Homo sapiens: one gene and its partner. The protein of the gene in region 1 interacts with the protein of each later gene in a pairwise test. Each region holds a gene or a part of one and is shown on either strand. Other genes may lie near its edges. The genes, in order: MYH7 and MYBPC3.

Region 1 (9,137 bases):
GATCATTCGCTAGGGCTACTCCCTGCCCTCCAGCCCTACTTTAATCTTTATACGATGGAACTCAGGAGGCTGAGACCCTTCTCCAGCCAGTGAGTGGGCCCAATGATGACAGCCAGGGCTGTATCGAGCTCTGCCTTGAGCTCCCTACGTGCATATCTGAAGATGAGGAGGGAGCCAGCTGAGCCTCATGTTTGCAAGCCCACTTTCTGGTGGTGGGTACCCAAACTCTCTAGGCATTCTCAAAGCACCCCCCAGGCTTCCAAAAAGGGAGATGAGAATAAGAAAACAACCAGAAAGTGCAAAAGAAAATGGTGAACAAAACAAGGGCATCTTTTATTACCCCCTCTTCACATATTCTGGAATACCCTACCTTAAAAACAAAACAAACCGTGCTACTTGGCCCTCTTCCCTTGAGTTGTTGTCTAATCTCATTCATTTCACTGCCAAACTCCTCAAATGCATGGTGTACACCCACTGCTTCCACTTCCTGTCCACTCATCTTTTTCCTCATTAACTCCCTGTGGCCTGGCTTTGCCTGTGACACTACACAAGCTGCTTGCTCCAAGATAATCCAAGTTCTTTTCTCTGTCTTCCTGATACACAGGCTTTCTTTGGCATCTGACACTGCTGGCCACCTGCTCTTCTTGAAATGCTTCTTTTGGCTTCTAGGAAACTGCCCATTTCTCACTCTCCTTAGCTGTCTTTGAATCTCCTTCTCTTCTCTGCGGGCTTCTCTTCCTTCTCCCATCGCTGTACTGTGGGTATCTCCCAGGCCTTTCCTCTTCTCTCCAACCTCATGGCTTCTTTCACATCCCCCGAGGTAGTCAGCCCTCTTTATCCAGTTCTGCCCACTGGTCTCATAGCTCCAGCTTCCTTCAGGAAAGCAAAACATCTTCCATTGGTTGCCCCACTCTTACCTCCATTTCCCCCAAACGGAACACTGTCCTTCCTCCTACGTGTCCCTTTTGCCATTATTCCCATCCTTGCCGACATCGTGCAGTCATGCCTCTCCCTTCCTCATTTCTTGCGTCCAGGCTGTTAGCAAGGCATTTTATTCCTTCTTTAGAAAGGCCTTCCAGCCTTGCCTTTCCGCTTCATGCTGCTGGTCTCGCTTTCCTGCCAACGTTGATGGCTACTGTATCCTCCTCTCGGGTCTCCCTGCCTCCAGCCTCTCTTCCGCAAAGCACCCAATAATACCCCTGCTAGGCCCATCAAACTCTGGTTTCAAGACATCACAATGACTGCCATGGTTTAGAACTTTAGTCATTCCTCATTGCTTCCAGGGTATTATCCATTTTGCTGTCCTGGGAAACAGGGCAGAGTCCGTAGAAAGCCCTTTGAGCAAGACAGACCTGGGTCTGAATCCCAGTGCCACGTTTGCTACTTACCTTGAGCAAACATCTTAGCCTCTCTGAACCCCATTGCTCCTCCATAAAACACAATTAAAGTGACACACAATTGTGAACATGTGTGAGATCATGGTGTATAAAACACTGTGCACCTGGCACAGGTGGTCACTCAATATGTATATAGCCCTTTCCCCTCTCCGACATTGGGGCCCTACCTTTTTTTCCTTCCACCTATGTCTCCAGATCCCCCATACGCATAGCCTCATCAGGCATGTGTCCTCCGAGTCCTTATGAACTCACCACACCGTTCCCCTTCCATGCCTTTGGTCACTCTGTGATTCTCATTGCCCAGAACATATCCTGATACTCAGTGCTTCTTAAAGCCCTCCCCTCACCAAGCTCCACTGTCATGTCCCCATCTTGAAAGCTTATTTTATTTTATTTTATTTTGGGACAGAGTCTCACTCTGTCCAGACTGGAGTGCAGTGGTGCGATCTCAGCTCACTTCAACCTCCGATTCCCAGATTCAAGTGATTCTCATGCTTCAGCGATTCTCATGCCTCCTGAGTAGCTGGGACTACAGGAGTGCACCACCATGCCCGGCTAATTTTTGTATTTTTTGTAGAGACGGGGTTTCACTATGTTGGTCAGGCTAGTCTCAAACTCCTGACCTCAAGTTATCTGCCTGCCTCAGCCTCTCAAACTGCTGTGATTACAGGTGTGAGCCACCAACGCCCAGCCTGCTCCTATCTGGTGGCCTGACCAATGTCACCACTTGGCCTGGGTCAACTCCTGCTGGACCTCAGGACACACTGGCTTGTCATGAGGGAAGCTCAGTGGGCAGCAGTCAAGCAGTGATGCCTATCCCAGCTCAGGGCTGGACTGTGGGCCTAGACTGAGTCTAGGACAGTCTGAGAACCTTGGCCTCCTGGCATGACGTTCCCAAGGGCAGTCACAGTCTGGGTAGAGCCGACCACAAGACTGCAGGATTTCTGATCTACTCTGGTCCAGACCATCCTTTGAACCAAGTGGACTTAGTGGGGCTGAAGGAGGTGTGGGGACAAAGAACCTATGGCAGGGCAACCGGCCCTCCTGTCTGCAGCCTGGCTTCCTCAATTTTGTGTTCCTAACCTAAGAGCTGCCATTCAGTGAGGGCCCACAGTGTGTCTGCTGTGTGTAGACTCTGCTTGTGCAATCTCTAATGGCCTGAGTAGCCCTGGAAACAAAATGTGGCTATCCCCATGTTACAGATGACAAAACTGGCTCAAAGCAATTATATGACTGACGTAGACCACACAGCTAGAAAATGGAATCACTGGGTTTCAAAGTGGATTTTTGTGACTGACTCCAAAGCTGACCAGACTGCTCATCCTGTATGCTTCTGAGGCCTCTGGCCCTCCAGACCGGTCACTCCCCACAAAGTCTCCCTTTTGGTGAGTTGTGTCCCTCCAAACACTCCCTGAAGGCAAGATCAACCTGCCCTAACTACCCCAAAGTGAACTAGGCCAGCCCCAAGCCTGTCTCCGGCCCTCCATCTCTCTCTTTGTTCACATCCATCAGAAAGCAGAGACCTAGAGTAGGGAATGAGAGGGGGTGCACAAGTACAAAAGATTTTGAAGCCAGCAGGAAGACAAAAGAATGACAAGAAGGAGCAGCTGTTTGTAAAGGGAAATCTGAGACAGGCAGAAAGCTCAGCTCCCTAATCCTAGGCTCGTGTGGAGCCAGGGCAGGGTCCCCCCAAGGTCAGGGATTCTGGGGGCAGGCGGATGGGAGAGTCAGCCTCCACTCCTGGGTGGCTCCCCTCTGCCCTGTGCACAAACAACGAGTGCCTCATTCCTCCCCTGCACCAAGTGCCCTGCCTCTTCCTGCCCCGTTTCTTCCTTCCCTTTGGGTACCGGAGCTTTTTTCTGATTCCCCTCTCTCCATGCTGACATCGCTTCTAATTCGCCCTGGTGTCTCCCTCCCTCACAATTACTGGGAGTAATTTTAGCAACTTTTCCTCTGAACTACCGCTGGCGTGTTCACAGCAAATGGCCCCTGTTTTGGCTTGACACTTGATCAGGGTGGTGACAGAGTGCAGACAAAGCCGGCACAATGCGGGGAGGGGAGGACGGGGGACAGATCACCTTCCTTTCACTTCAGGCCTTATTTGGTCTACCTTGCCGAAGCGGCCCTCCTTCCAGCCTCTCTTTATTTATAGCATTTTGCTTTGCTCTCCTTTATCTTGCTATCACTTTGTAGCACACTCTGCACAATCCCCACCCACCCCAGCATGGTGGGGCCCCTGGCCCCTCACTCTCCCCACAAGGAATGTGCATGTGTGCAAAGGGTAGGCCTGGATGCCATTTCTACAAACAGTTGACTAAAGCAGTCCAGAGCAGGGATCTTTCTTTGGGTCATTGTTATGTCCTTATTGACCAGAATAATGCCTGGCACATAGTAGGCACTCAATAAATACTTGTTGAATGGAGGAATCTGCAAAGCTGCTCAGTCTTCAGACAGCAGCAAGCAGCAGGAAGAGAATCATGATGTAACCAAGAGCAGGTGCTGGAGGAGCTAGGGAGTGAGTGGGGATCTTTAAGGACAGCAGGCCCTCTGATCTGTCTGAGCTGTGAGGCAAAGCCTAGTTAGGGAGGTGAGTTCTATCTGCAATGAGAGGGGGCATGGGTGGAGAACAGTAACACCCAAACACCAACAGACCAGAGCCTCCCAAACCCGAAAGGAGAGAAACAAAGTGTGATTGATTTCCCAAATGCAGAAAAGACTACCCAAGTCCCCAGCCAAGGAAGGACGCTGGCCTGTGGTGAAGACACTGGCTTTGAAATGGCTCAACTACGTCCCAAGCACCCTTTGTGCATCTTAATTGCCCTGGGAAATCAGGGAGGGGTGGCAGTTTGGAGCTTGGAAAGCTGGAAGGTGGGGACGAAAGGAGTTTTTGCCCCTCATCGCCAATCCTTGAGGTTCCTACAGGGAACCTCAGACAACAGCTGTCTTAGGGGTTTCCTTCCAGCTCCAAGCAGCTGTATTATCTATAGCTTTGAGAGGGTCTGTCTCTGTCAATGGGGCTGATTCCTCAGCACCTGGCAGGGCCTGGGGGGGACTGCCAGAGTCTGTTCTGCCGGGCATGTTAGTAGCACAGACTACTGGGATAACCTCAGCAACTGTATACCTTAGCACTGCAGAGCTGCGGTGTTGTCAGACACAGCCCTTGCAGTTCGTGGTCTACCCCCACTTGCCTGCACCCCCCTTATAGCTGCTCAATGTCCTCAGACTGTACCTTAGTGCCTTGGTTACCAAGCAACCCCCACAGAGGCCTCCTCCTGGATTTTCCCTTCCCTGCTATGCCCACCCCACCTTCAAAATGTACCTGCTGCACCCATCCCCCAGGCCTGCCTCACTCCTTCCAAGCTGACAGCTAATCAGATGGACTAATCCGCATGCGCGGAAGAGCTGTGCTTGGGAAGAAGGGGGAGATTTCACACCAAATCGTGCAGTGGTTGCCTAGACACGGAGCCAGTCAAGCTTGCATGCCCCGTTGCTAGAAGAGCATGGCATCGGTTGTGTTCTGTGCTCGTAGGCTGGGCCCCAGCTCCCTTTCCTCCCCTCCTTTGTGGCTGTTCCTCAGGCCTGCAGAGGGGAAGATTTTTCCTGTCCTGTTACTCTGCCTCACTTGCCAGAACACTAGTCGCCTCCAGCTCTGGATAAAGCTGAGGCTGGGTGGGCCAGACAACAGCTGTCTTAGGGGTCTCCTTCCAGCTCCAAGTAGTTGTATTATCTATAGCTCTGAGAGGGTCTGTCTCTGGGCTCAGGCCTTTAGTACCTGTGGGGCAGAGCCAGGAACGTGAGTCAGGCAAACCGCTCCAAACTAGGACCAATGCAGCTGGGTCCTGCTCTCTGCGCATAGGGGGTCCCCACATCTTTGGAATCCCAGCCCACCTTTCCAGGCTACCCTCCACAGGCCGGGCTCCACTCCCATCTGCTGAGGTTTCCCACCTTGAATCCTGCTGCCCCGATTAGCTGTATAACCTTAAAGAATGCACTGTCCCTCTCCATTAAATGAAGTGCTTGGATGGATTGCTAAAGGCCTGTCTGGCTCGGAGGCTTGGTGACCTCAACACATTGCCTGCTGGTCCAAGGAAATCAGTGCCTGAGCCAGAGTCCCCATCTCTAAGCTCCATGGTTATTGTTCTTGCCACCTGGCTAGGAAATGTCCTTCCAGCTGCCCCAGTCTAGCTGCCTCACCCTGGGGCCATGCCCCCAACTCTGTCCTACCCTTCTCTGCTGCTGACACTCAGCCCCTTCCCAGCTTCCAGTTGGATACAGGACCTGGGCCAGGAGAGCAGGGAGGACACTGTGGAAATGCGGCCAGGCCATCAGGGGCCTCGCAGCAGGGGACTGGAGGGGGAGCAGTGTCCAGGGCCAGAAGTGCCCTGCGGGAGAGCCAGGACATTGGCTGCCTGTGGTCTTGGTGGTCGTGGTCAGTTCCCTCTCCTGCCAGCTGTGGAATGTGAGGCCTGGCCTGGGAGATATTTTTGCTGCACTTTGAGCCACCCCGCCCCCTGGAACTCAGACCCTGCACAGTCCATGCCATAACAATGACGACCACTTCCAATTGTTTCCTAGCTGGAGAGGCGGGGAGGGGAGCACTGTTTGGGAAGGGGGGGAGCCTGGGGGAAATGCTTCTAGTGACAACAGCCCTTTCTAAATCCGGCTAGGGACTGGGTGCCGTTGGGGGTGGGGGTGCCCTGCTGCCCCATATATACAGCCCCTGAGACCAGGTCTGGCTCCACAGCTCTGTCCTGCTCTGTGTCTTTCCCTGCTGCTCTCAGGTAGGAGCGGGAGCTGGAGGCTTTACTCTGGGATAAGGGGGCTCCAGGCTTAGGAAGGGATTCCTCTTGGAATAGCAAGCTTCATGCAGGACTTCATGCAGAGTACCAGGTCCAGTCACTGGGCACACATGTGCAGGTCTAAACATGGGCGTATGTGCCACAGGAGTTCCTAGGGGAAGATATCTGCATCTGAGCATATGGGACCAATATGCATTACAGGGTGTGTGTGTGTGTGTGTGTGTGTGTGTGTGTGTGGACAAGCCTGCATAGTCTGAATGTGAGAAAGGGTATGTACCTCACTGACTGATACAGAAATATCAAGTGGGAGATGTGGGTGTATGATCACGTCTGTGAACGAGGAGGTTCCTTTGCAGGGAGGGAGAAAGAATGGTGGAGAAGGATTCTAGGAAGTGTGTATGCCTTCATGTGATTCTGTGAGGCCTGGAATGTGTAGCTACCCCTGTCCATGCATGCAGAGGTTCTTGTCTATGCCTCCACGAGTCATGACTGTTATAGTATCTGTACCCTCTGCAGAAGGAACTCACAGGCACGGGGGTGTAGGATGTTCCAGGTCTTTGTGTACTGAAGAACACGCAGTGATGTGATCTACTTACGTGGCACACATCCTGAAATGTGCACATTTGCTGTTGAGGCATATATGGCACCCTGGGGTTGGGGTGCGGATTGAGGTATGGGAAGGAAGCCTGTCTTCATGTGAGAGGCATGCCCAAGCAGCAGGCATGAGTGTTCATCAGAGGGCTTGTGGAGGGTGTTTGGCTATGTGATGGGTGTGTCTGTGAGAGGAAGCCCACAGTGTCTTCTCTCTGAGAATGTCCACAAAGTCTGACAACAAAATGGGGACAGGATGGAAAAGAAGTCTCTTTAGAGTCATCAGACTTGCATTCAAGTCTTGGCTCTCCCACTTGTTGTCATGGGCTCTTGGCCAAGCAAGCCATTTAACCTCGATTTCCTCATCTGTCAAATGGGGTGAAGACTGAGTAGGAGAAAGTGCATTGAAGTGCTTTTAGACTGGAAAGTGCCGAACAAATGTGACCATTAGTTGTCTCTCAGATGGCTCAAAGAAAGGTACCACTAGATGGGTACAGGCAGGGGTGGGACCATCTCGCAGGAGTGAAGAGGATTAGGGTTCAGGTTGAGTTGACACCAGGAAGCTGTTAGAACTAGTTCTTGAGGAAAAAGGGAATAGGGTTTGAAAAACAAGAAGGATGGGACCAGAGAAGCTGACCACCCTTTCCACCTTGTTTTGGAAGAGGGTGGATGCTGAAGAACAGAGCCAGGGAGAAGCAGGAAGGTGGGACTGGTCAGGTTGGGCACAGCCTGCCCTGACACAGCCTCTTCCCTCTCTCCAGGTCCCCTGCAGGCCTTGGCCCCTTTCCTCATCTGTAGACACACTTGAGTAGCCCAGGTAAGAAAAGCTGAAGCTAGAGTGTTGAAAATCTAGTAAGACTGGGCATTAGAGCCCCAAAGCCAGCCTATGGAACTCTAGTTTCTGCCATGTGCTGGAGAGAATATCTTGGCTATCAAGAGCTACTTACCTGTGACCAGGGGGTCCAGGGATAGATGAGGGTCAGAGATGGAAATAGTTAGATTTCTGCTCCTACAGGGAGCTCAGAATGCTCTTCCTTCCCCTAGGAGAGCCCCAGCTTGAACAATAGTTAGTTGTTCCTTTTACCCTGGCAGGTTTGCTAGGCTGCTCCTCTGGTTAAGGGGTAACCTCAAAGAGGAAGGGACTCACTGGTAACTCCTCTTGACTCTTGAGCATGGTGCTAGGTTTTGGGGCTCCCACTGAAGGGGAGAGCCCAGGGAGGGAAGGGAAGAATGGGCAGATGGGAGGGCAGCCAGCTTCTGCTCACTCCAGGCACAGCCATGGGAGATTCGGAGATGGCAGTCTTTGGGGCTGCCGCCCCCTACCTGCGCAAGTCAGAGAAGGAGCGGCTAGAAGCGCAGACCAGGCCTTTTGACCTCAAGAAGGATGTCTTCGTGCCTGATGACAAACAGGAGTTTGTCAAGGCCAAGATCGTGTCTCGAGAGGGTGGCAAAGTCACTGCCGAGACCGAGTATGGCAAGGTGGGTGTCAGGCTGATGTGAGAGTCCACCCTGGCCACCTGTACACCTGGGTGGACAGAGAGGGGTACACCCATGCCCCATGCCCATGCAGACCTGAGGATGGTCCCATTCTCCTTCCCTTTGGGGAAGAATCCAGACCCTCCAAAGAGCCCTCTCCTTCCCAATATCCCTTCTGTCTTCCCTGTGAGATCCTGGTTCCTTCTCTCTTGAGCACTATTGCCCTGTCACTCACCAACTCCTAACCCTCTTGAGGAAGGAGGGAAAGCCCAGGCTGACAGGAGGGCTTGGGTGGGGGCTCTTGCAGACAGTGACCGTGAAGGAGGACCAGGTGATGCAGCAGAACCCACCCAAGTTCGACAAAATCGAGGACATGGCCATGCTGACCTTCCTGCATGAGCCCGCGGTGCTCTACAACCTCAAGGATCGCTACGGCTCCTGGATGATCTACGTGAGTGCTGCACCTGGCCCTACGTTGGGATCTCTGTTCTTGCTCCATCCATGTCCACCCCAGGAGCCAAGAGTGTCTTCTGTTTGTGTCTAGGCAGGGTTACACTCTAACCTCGTCCCAACATCCTTGGTTCAATTCCAACACTCTGGGGACTGGCATTACTCAGATTGAGTGCATGCAGAGGTTTTCCTTTCTCTTCTTTCTCTCCTGGGATCTTTCTCTAACTCCCAAAATCACCAGCCCTCCCCCTTCGCAACTGGCAAGTCACTGCTCCTTTTCTATCCCCAGACCTACTCGGGCCTCTTCTGTGTCACCGTCAACCCTTACAAGTGGCTGCCGGTGTACACTCCTGAGGTGGTGGCTGCCTACCGGGGCAAGAAGAGGAGCGAGGCCCCGCCCCACATCTTCTCCATCTCCGACAAC
Region 2 (7,000 bases), on another chromosome or scaffold:
TTGAAGGTCTCCTCCCGGGTCAGCTCCACCCCGTCCTTCAGCCTAGCCGGGTGGGTGGGTGGCAAGTGCTGTGGCCTCTTCTGGGCAGATGCCCCCAACACCCATGCCCCGTGCTTCTGGAACTCACCATTTGACTTGCGCCCCCTCCTCCGATACTTCACACTCAAACTCCACCCGCTGCCCCACCATCACCAGCTGGTCCTCCAAGGGGCGCGTGATGAGCACAGGGGGCTCTGTCCAGGCAGGGTGAGCATGAGGGTTGGCTCCCCTGAGGCCATCTCCTCCCCAGGTTCCCACATCCTCAGGTCCCAGGCCCACCTTTCACAAAGAGCTCCGTGCTACACTTCTCGCCACCCACCACGCACTGGTAGGCTGCGTCGTCCGCCAATGAGCACTGGCTGATGGTCAGGGTACGCTTGGCACCGATGGACTCAAAGATGTACCTGGGTGGGGGCCGCAGGGAAGTGGCAGGAAAGCTGCGGACACCCCTCCGGGCCCAGTGCGCCCCATGATAATCCCTGTGCCCCCCACCCCAAGCCATCCAGAGGGGAACTTACTTGCTGTAGAACAGAAGGGGCCGTTGAAGTGTTCCCGACGGGAGGAAGTGAGCCCGAGACAAAAGGAGAGAGAGAGAGGGACCGGCAGGAGCAAAAGGATGGGAAATTAGGCCCAGAGAGATGGGGCTGAGAGCCACACCGAGTCAGAGATACGCATGTGGAGAGGGGCAGGAGGCAAGGCTATGGGGGTCCCCACCTCCACCCGAGCCCCCCTCCCCACCCCAGGCTGCACCTGCCGCTCATCTGGATCTCCTGGCCATTCTTGAGCCATTTGACCTCAGCGTCATGGTCAGCCAGTTCCACGGTCAGCCGGATCTTGTGGCCTTTGCTCACCTGGTAGGCCGGCTCCAGCTTCTTCTGAAAGGCTGAGCACCACCCCTCAGCCCCGGCCACCCCACCGCCCGCACCCTGCTCCCCCAGGCCAAGCTACTGTGGCTGTGGCTGGGGCCCAGGTCCCCCCCTCCAATCCCCTCTGTGCCGCCCCGCTTCCACTTCTCTGTGTCTCTATTTCTTTTTGTTTTGTTTGTTTGTCTGTTTGTTTGTTTTTTGGACAGAGTCTTGCTCTGTTGGCCAGGCTGGAGTGCAATGGCGCCATCTTGGCTCACTGCAACCTCTGCCTCCCAGGTTCAAGTGATTCTCCTGCCTCGGCCTCCCGAGTAGCTGGGATTACAGGCATGTGCCACCACGCCCAGCTAATTTTTGTATTTTTAGTAGAGACGGGGTTTTACCATGTTGGCCGGGCTGGTCTTGAAATCCTGACCTCAGGTGATGCGCCCGCCTCAGCCTCCCAAAGTGCTGGGATTACAGGCATGGTGTCTTCATTTCTTTATCTGTGTCTATGTGTCAACCCACCTCCTTGTCTCTGTCTGTCTGACCTTGTCCTTCTGTCTTCCTTGGGGTCCTCTCCACCTGCTCAGCTCAGGGATTGGGTTAGGGGCTTCCAGAAAGACAGAAGCTTGTCAGGAGAACTGGGGCTGGGACAGCTGTGCCTTCTCTTCTCTCAGCAACCCCTGAGTTGTGTACTCTTCCCAGGCGCTCCCACCTAGCAGCCCTCTGTGCCCAGCACTCTCACTCCCATCTCAGCCCCCAGGGCCAGTGCGGTGGTCCCCATGCTGCTGCAGTGGGGGAAATAGGGCTCAGAGAGGCGACTGGCCCAATGCCACCAGCCCAGCAGGTGTGTGGCAGAGCTGGGTCTTGAGCCCAGCCCTGCTCCACAACAATGCCTCCTCTTGCGGCCGTGTTTGTAAAAGCCCATGTTGCTGCTGCTGAGCCCAGGGAGGAAGTGGGGGCTCCATCCACCGAGCAGAGAAGGACCCCTGAGTCCTCAAATACTCTGGCTGGGCCTGGAGTCAGCTGCGGAGGGGCAGAGATCTACTGCTGGGTGCTCTGTGACCTTGCGCTAGTTCCTTAAACCCTCTGTGCCTCGGTTTCCTCAGTAACATGGAAATGGTAATAGTCCTTCCATCATAGTGTTGTTTCGAGAATTAAATGAGATAATTACATAAAGCACCTAGTGGCTGGCTTAGGAAGGAACTCACTCACTTTTTTTGAGATGGAGTCTCATTCTGTCACCCAGGTTGGAGTGCAATGGCACAATCCTGACTCACTGCAACCTCTGCCTCCCGGGTTCAAGTGATTCTCCTGCCTCAGCCTCCGGAGTAGCTGGGATTACAGGCGCCTGCCACCATGCCCAGGTAATTTTGTATTTTTAGTAGAGACGGGGTTTCACCATGTTGGTCAGGCTGGTCTTGAACGCCTAACCTCAGGTGATCCACCTGCCTCGGCCTCCCAAAGTGCTGGGATTACAGGCGTGAGCCACTGCACCTGGCCAGCAATTTGCTCTTTTTACTGTTGTTGCTATTCCTGGAAGACACCCCTACCCTCGGAGGTCCCCATCTGCCTTGCCAGCCTCCATCTTTTCCTCCTTGGGCACCTACAGTCCTTTGCTTGGTGCCCTCTGGGCTCAGCAGTTCAGGAGTTAACCCAGAGGAACATTGGTGGCATTCAGGGGATCCCTGGCTTAAATGGGGCCACGGTGCCGGTAAGGGCCAGGCCACCTAGCGATGGGGTGATGGGAAACCCAGTGAGGCTGAGACAACAGGGAGGCAGGGCAGAGGGATAAGGGGCCTGGGGGAGGTCAGCAGGGAGGGACTAACCAGCTCCTCTCCCCGTCCCCATGATCGTGTGTGTTTTGTGTGTGTGCTTTGGGAGGGGCTTGTCTCCCATATCCTGCATGGAAGCTGACCCCTCCATTCAGTCGGTGTTTATAGAGCGCTCGAGGTGTGTGCCAGGCCCTGTGCTAGACCCAGACATGGTGGGGAGAAGGCATGTGAGACCCCTGCTTTCCCGGCTCACACCCGCCCTTGTCAACCCCTCAGTGGAGAAGGGCTATTCCTGGGCTCTCCTCTTTCCATCTGCCTGGGGGTGAGGGTAGTTAACCCAAGCCCTCCTGCTTTGTTTGCCTGAGAGAAAGATTAGCCAGGCTCTTTTCTTTGCCTGTGTGTGGCTCTCCAGGCTTAGCGGGCCTCTTCCCTTTTCTTTTGGGTGTGGAGAGGGTTAACCGGGCTTCATTTCTTTTCAGAAGAGGGTAGAGAAAGAAAGTGTAGCCTGATTTTTCCTTGGTGAGGAGGGTTAACCTGAGCTCTGTCCTTTTCCTTGTGGCTGTCCTGGCCTAACTTTTGCTCTTCTCTTCTATCTCTGTGGTAAGGGGCTAACCTGGGCATTCTTGGCTTTTTCTACACAAGGAGGGGTTAACCTGGGCTCTTCTTTCCTGTGAGTCTCTGTGCTAAGCCGGACTCCGCTCTTTCCATGTATGTGGACGAGGTGGGGGGCTAACCTGTGCCCTCTCCTCTCCCCTGTGGGGAAGGGCTAACCTATGCCCTCTCCTCTCCTGTGTAGGGAAGGGCTAGCCTGTGCCCTCTCCTCTCCCCTCTGAGGAAGGGCTAACCTGTGCTCTTCTTCTCATCGCGCCTCATGCCCTTGAGCCTCTTTAGCATGCCGCGCAGGTCAGTGACGCCGTACTGGAAGGCGATGCGCTCGTACTCAGATGGGGGTGCCTGCCGTAGGATCTCCCACACGTCCTCCTCTGCTGGTGCCTCCAGCTTCGAGTCCCTGTGTCCCGCAGTCTAGGCTGTGGCCGGGGGCAAGACTGCAGCCCCCTGGGCGGGGCTTCCTGGGCCCAGGACCAAGGAGCTGTAGCCACCCCTGTCCCTCTGCCCCTTCCCTTCTGGTGGGGCAGCTGGAGCTGCTCTGGGTCCCAGGCCAGGCAGGACTGGGGGCCAAGGGAGCTGAAGAGGGGCTGGGGATCTGGAGGGGCTCCTGGCAGAATTAGGGGTGATGAGGGTGCTGTGCTATGTTGGGCACTCACCTCGGGGTCCGGAAACTGCTGCTCCAGGGGTGGGGGTGGGAGAAAGGGTAGGTGGCACATGAGAGGTATGGCCACCTTCCCTCAAAGACCTGGACCCCACCCATGGGCCTTTACTTCCTCCCTATTTTCCGCACTTGCACTCCCTGTGTTGTGGGGCACCCATGCTGCTCCGGAGGCTCTGGCAGGACCTCCTGTGTGCATTACTTTTTCTTATCCCTCCTAAGCTCTGACAGATAGGTGGGTGGCAGGAGAAGCCCAAGGCACAGAGACTCACCCCTGTCCGTGGGGAGCCGCACCCTGCTCTGAGTCTCTCACCACAGCCTCTCAGAGAGGGGACGGGAATCCCCTCTGCACCCACCAGCGCCCTGCCGCCCCCAAACACCCAGACCCCGATTCTTACTCTCTGGGCCACAGCAGCAGCAGCCATAATGGAGGGGCCGGGGGAGAGGGAGAGAGAGGGCAGAGAGAACATAAGTCAGTTGGGCCGACCTGGTAGACCCTGCAGCTCTGGGGACCCTCTCTCTGTTCCTTCTGGGTCCCCGGAGTTTACGGAGGGAGCTTTTGCAGCCTCAAGTGTGGAGTGGCCGTGGGGGACACTGTGAGGATGACTGTTGACGGGACATAATGTCTGCAGAGCCCTTTAACTCCTTCCACACTGGGATCATCCCCTCGACAGACAAGGAAACCAACTCAGAGAGGTGCAGTGTTGTGCTCAGGGTCACACAGCTGGCAAACCACAGTGCTGGGATTTGGAGCCAGGCCTCACCAGCTGCCCCAGGAACTGCCACCCAGGACTCACCTCTTTTTCAGCAGTGAGCTGAAGTCCAGAATCCCAGTGTCCTCATGGCTATCACTATGGAGAGGGACCCCCAGTGAGGCTGCAGTGAGGGACTGGAAAGGGATTAGGAGCAGGATGGGAGTGGAGTGGGGAGGGAGAAAGGGACACTAGCCAGATTGGGCTCCCACCCGTCTCAGACCCCTGGGGGTCTGCGGATGGTGCAGGTAGGGCCTGGGGCAGGGGTACCTGATCCGCCGACCACCTCCAGCCAGGCTCCTGTGGGGGTTAGACTCAGTATCCTCACCTGCCTGGGAAGCTTGCTCTCCCCTGCAGCCCCCACTGACTTCAGCTCCGCCCCGCAAATCATCCCCAGCCCTGACCCCCAGTCGAGACCCTGAAGGGCCTCAGACTCCAGCACTGGCCTCCCCCAGGCCCTGAGGATGGCCACTCACGTGCGGCGGAAGGCTGATAGGAGGTCCAGGTCTCCGGTGCCCATGGCCTCTGGGTTCAAAGGGTGGAGAGATGGGGGAAGGGGCTTCAGAGGGGGCCGTTTGAGAAGCCCTGCCCTGGGGGCGGCCTCTGAGTATTCACAGACTTGCCCATTCATGACCCCATGAGGCTGGGCATCTGCCCCAGGATCTCACCTTCCCAGCCTTTCCCAGGGTCAAGGTACCAGGCAGGTGGGACGGTTTATTGTCCCCAATTCCCACCCATCTCTCAACTCACCTTCACCCATCGCCCAAACATTCAGACAGTGCCAGGCCATGGGCCAGGAGCCGTGACACCAAGATGATAAAACAGAGTCCCACCCAGATGAGACCCGGACTCAGCCCTAAGCCCCCACGCCTACCCTGCAAGCCTTGGGGTTTCTCTCACACCCTGTGTGTGCAGCACTGGGCACGTGGCCAGCACTCATGTCTGGATGGGACGAGGCATCCTCCTTAGTGTTGGGAAAAGGAGGTAGGAGACCAGGACCCATGGGGAGCCCGAGCCCAGGACAGACACCAGGGCCCCCTCACCGTGGACAGTGAGATTGAAGTTGGAGCAGTCAAATTTGTCCTTGGTGGACACCTCACAGCGGTAGCTGCCAGTGAAGGCAGGCTGGGCATCGGTGATGTGCAGCTCGAACAGATAGACCTGTGTGCATGGAGGGACGGGGCGTCAGGGGACACCAGGGGCCGGGAGACAAGGCTCCGCACCCTTAAAGGAGACTGGGAGTGGCCGGGCGCGGTGGCTCAGGCCTGTAATCCCCACTTTGGGAGGCTGAGGCGGGCGGATCACATAAGACCAGGAGCTCCAGACCAGCCTGGCCAACGTGGTGAAATTCCGTCTCTACTAAAAATAACGAAAATTAGCCAAGTATGGTGGTGCACACCTCTAGTTTCAGCTACTCGGGAGGCTGAGGTGGGAGAATCGCTTGAACCCAGGAGGTGGAGGTTGCAGTGAGCCGAGATTGAGCCACTGCACTCCAGCCTGAGCGACAGAGCGAGACCCTGTCTCAAATTATATATATATATATATATTTAAAGGAGGCTGGGAGTGACAAATGCTCATCGATCTTCGCACCCTCAGGCTTTAGTTAACCCATACAGAGTTTTTGTACAGAGAAAGGGGACTATCTCGAAACCCATGATTGCCATCTGCTGGCACATGGTTGTGGTGAAATACAGGCTTTTGTGCAATGCACAGCCCCGCACAGCAGAACATGTTGGCCTCTCTTGCTAGAGGCCCCCTTGCCTAGCCCAGGACTGGGGAAGGTTGGGAAAAGCAGAGGCTTGGAGTGAACAAACAAGGGGACTTAAGCCTTAAGGTTCTGGTGGGCAGGGCGGAAAAAAACAAAACACAAAAAACGAAGGCTTAAGGTTCTAGGCCTATGTCTAAGTGACCTTGGAGCAGCCACTTAACCTCTCAAGCTTTGGTTTCCGTGTCTGTATAATGAGGAATTGTTCTGGTTAATCCCTGAGAGTCCCTTGAGCCCTTAGCCCTGATACTCACCCATCCAGGGGCTTTACAACCCCACTAGCTGGTGCCCCCATGCTTCACAGTGTCCTCCAGGCTTCCTGACCACCCTGGGCGACCCCCCACCCCCGGCCAAACCTTATTAGGTGCCCCCTTGAGGTGATCATGTCCACCAAGTCTCCCAGGTCCCCGACAGTGCTCCCATGAGCCTCATCGCACTCCCTGGCCCCCAGGCCTCCGGGATCTCCCTGTGGGCCCCTGGCCCCTCCACCTGCCTCCCAGATTCCCCACACCCCTTGCTTGCAGCTCGTGTGTGCCTCTGGGTCTCATGGTGCCCTC

The links.
Region 2: the proteins of MYH7 (region 1) and MYBPC3 interact in a two-hybrid assay, tested with the Homo sapiens proteins (2 studies listed by IntAct).

The regions. Positions count from the first base shown.
Region 1 is NC_000014.9:23,432,661-23,441,797, reverse strand, and holds the start of MYH7 (myosin-7), read left to right. Parts: upstream 1-6,137; 5' UTR 6,138-6,178; intron 6,179-7,548; 5' UTR 7,549-7,604; intron 7,605-8,057; 5' UTR 8,058-8,065; coding exon 8,066-8,266; intron 8,267-8,570; coding exon 8,571-8,714; intron 8,715-9,002; coding exon 9,003-9,137. UniProt on the Homo sapiens protein: Myosins are actin-based motor molecules with ATPase activity essential for muscle contraction. Forms regular bipolar thick filaments that, together with actin thin filaments, constitute the fundamental contractile unit of skeletal and cardiac muscle.
Region 2 is NC_000011.10:47,342,703-47,349,702, forward strand, and holds part of MYBPC3 (myosin-binding protein C, cardiac-type), read right to left. Parts: intron 5,840-7,000; coding exon 5,722-5,839; intron 5,204-5,721; coding exon 5,155-5,203; intron 4,979-5,154; coding exon 4,949-4,978; intron 4,778-4,948; coding exon 4,724-4,777; intron 4,328-4,723; coding exon 4,325-4,327; intron 3,943-4,324; coding exon 3,925-3,942; intron 3,669-3,924; coding exon 3,505-3,668; intron 923-3,504; coding exon 790-922; intron 561-789; coding exon 558-560; intron 444-557; coding exon 319-443; intron 234-318; coding exon 128-233; intron 43-127; coding exon 1-42. UniProt on the Homo sapiens protein: Thick filament-associated protein located in the crossbridge region of vertebrate striated muscle a bands. In vitro it binds MHC, F-actin and native thin filaments, and modifies the activity of actin-activated myosin ATPase.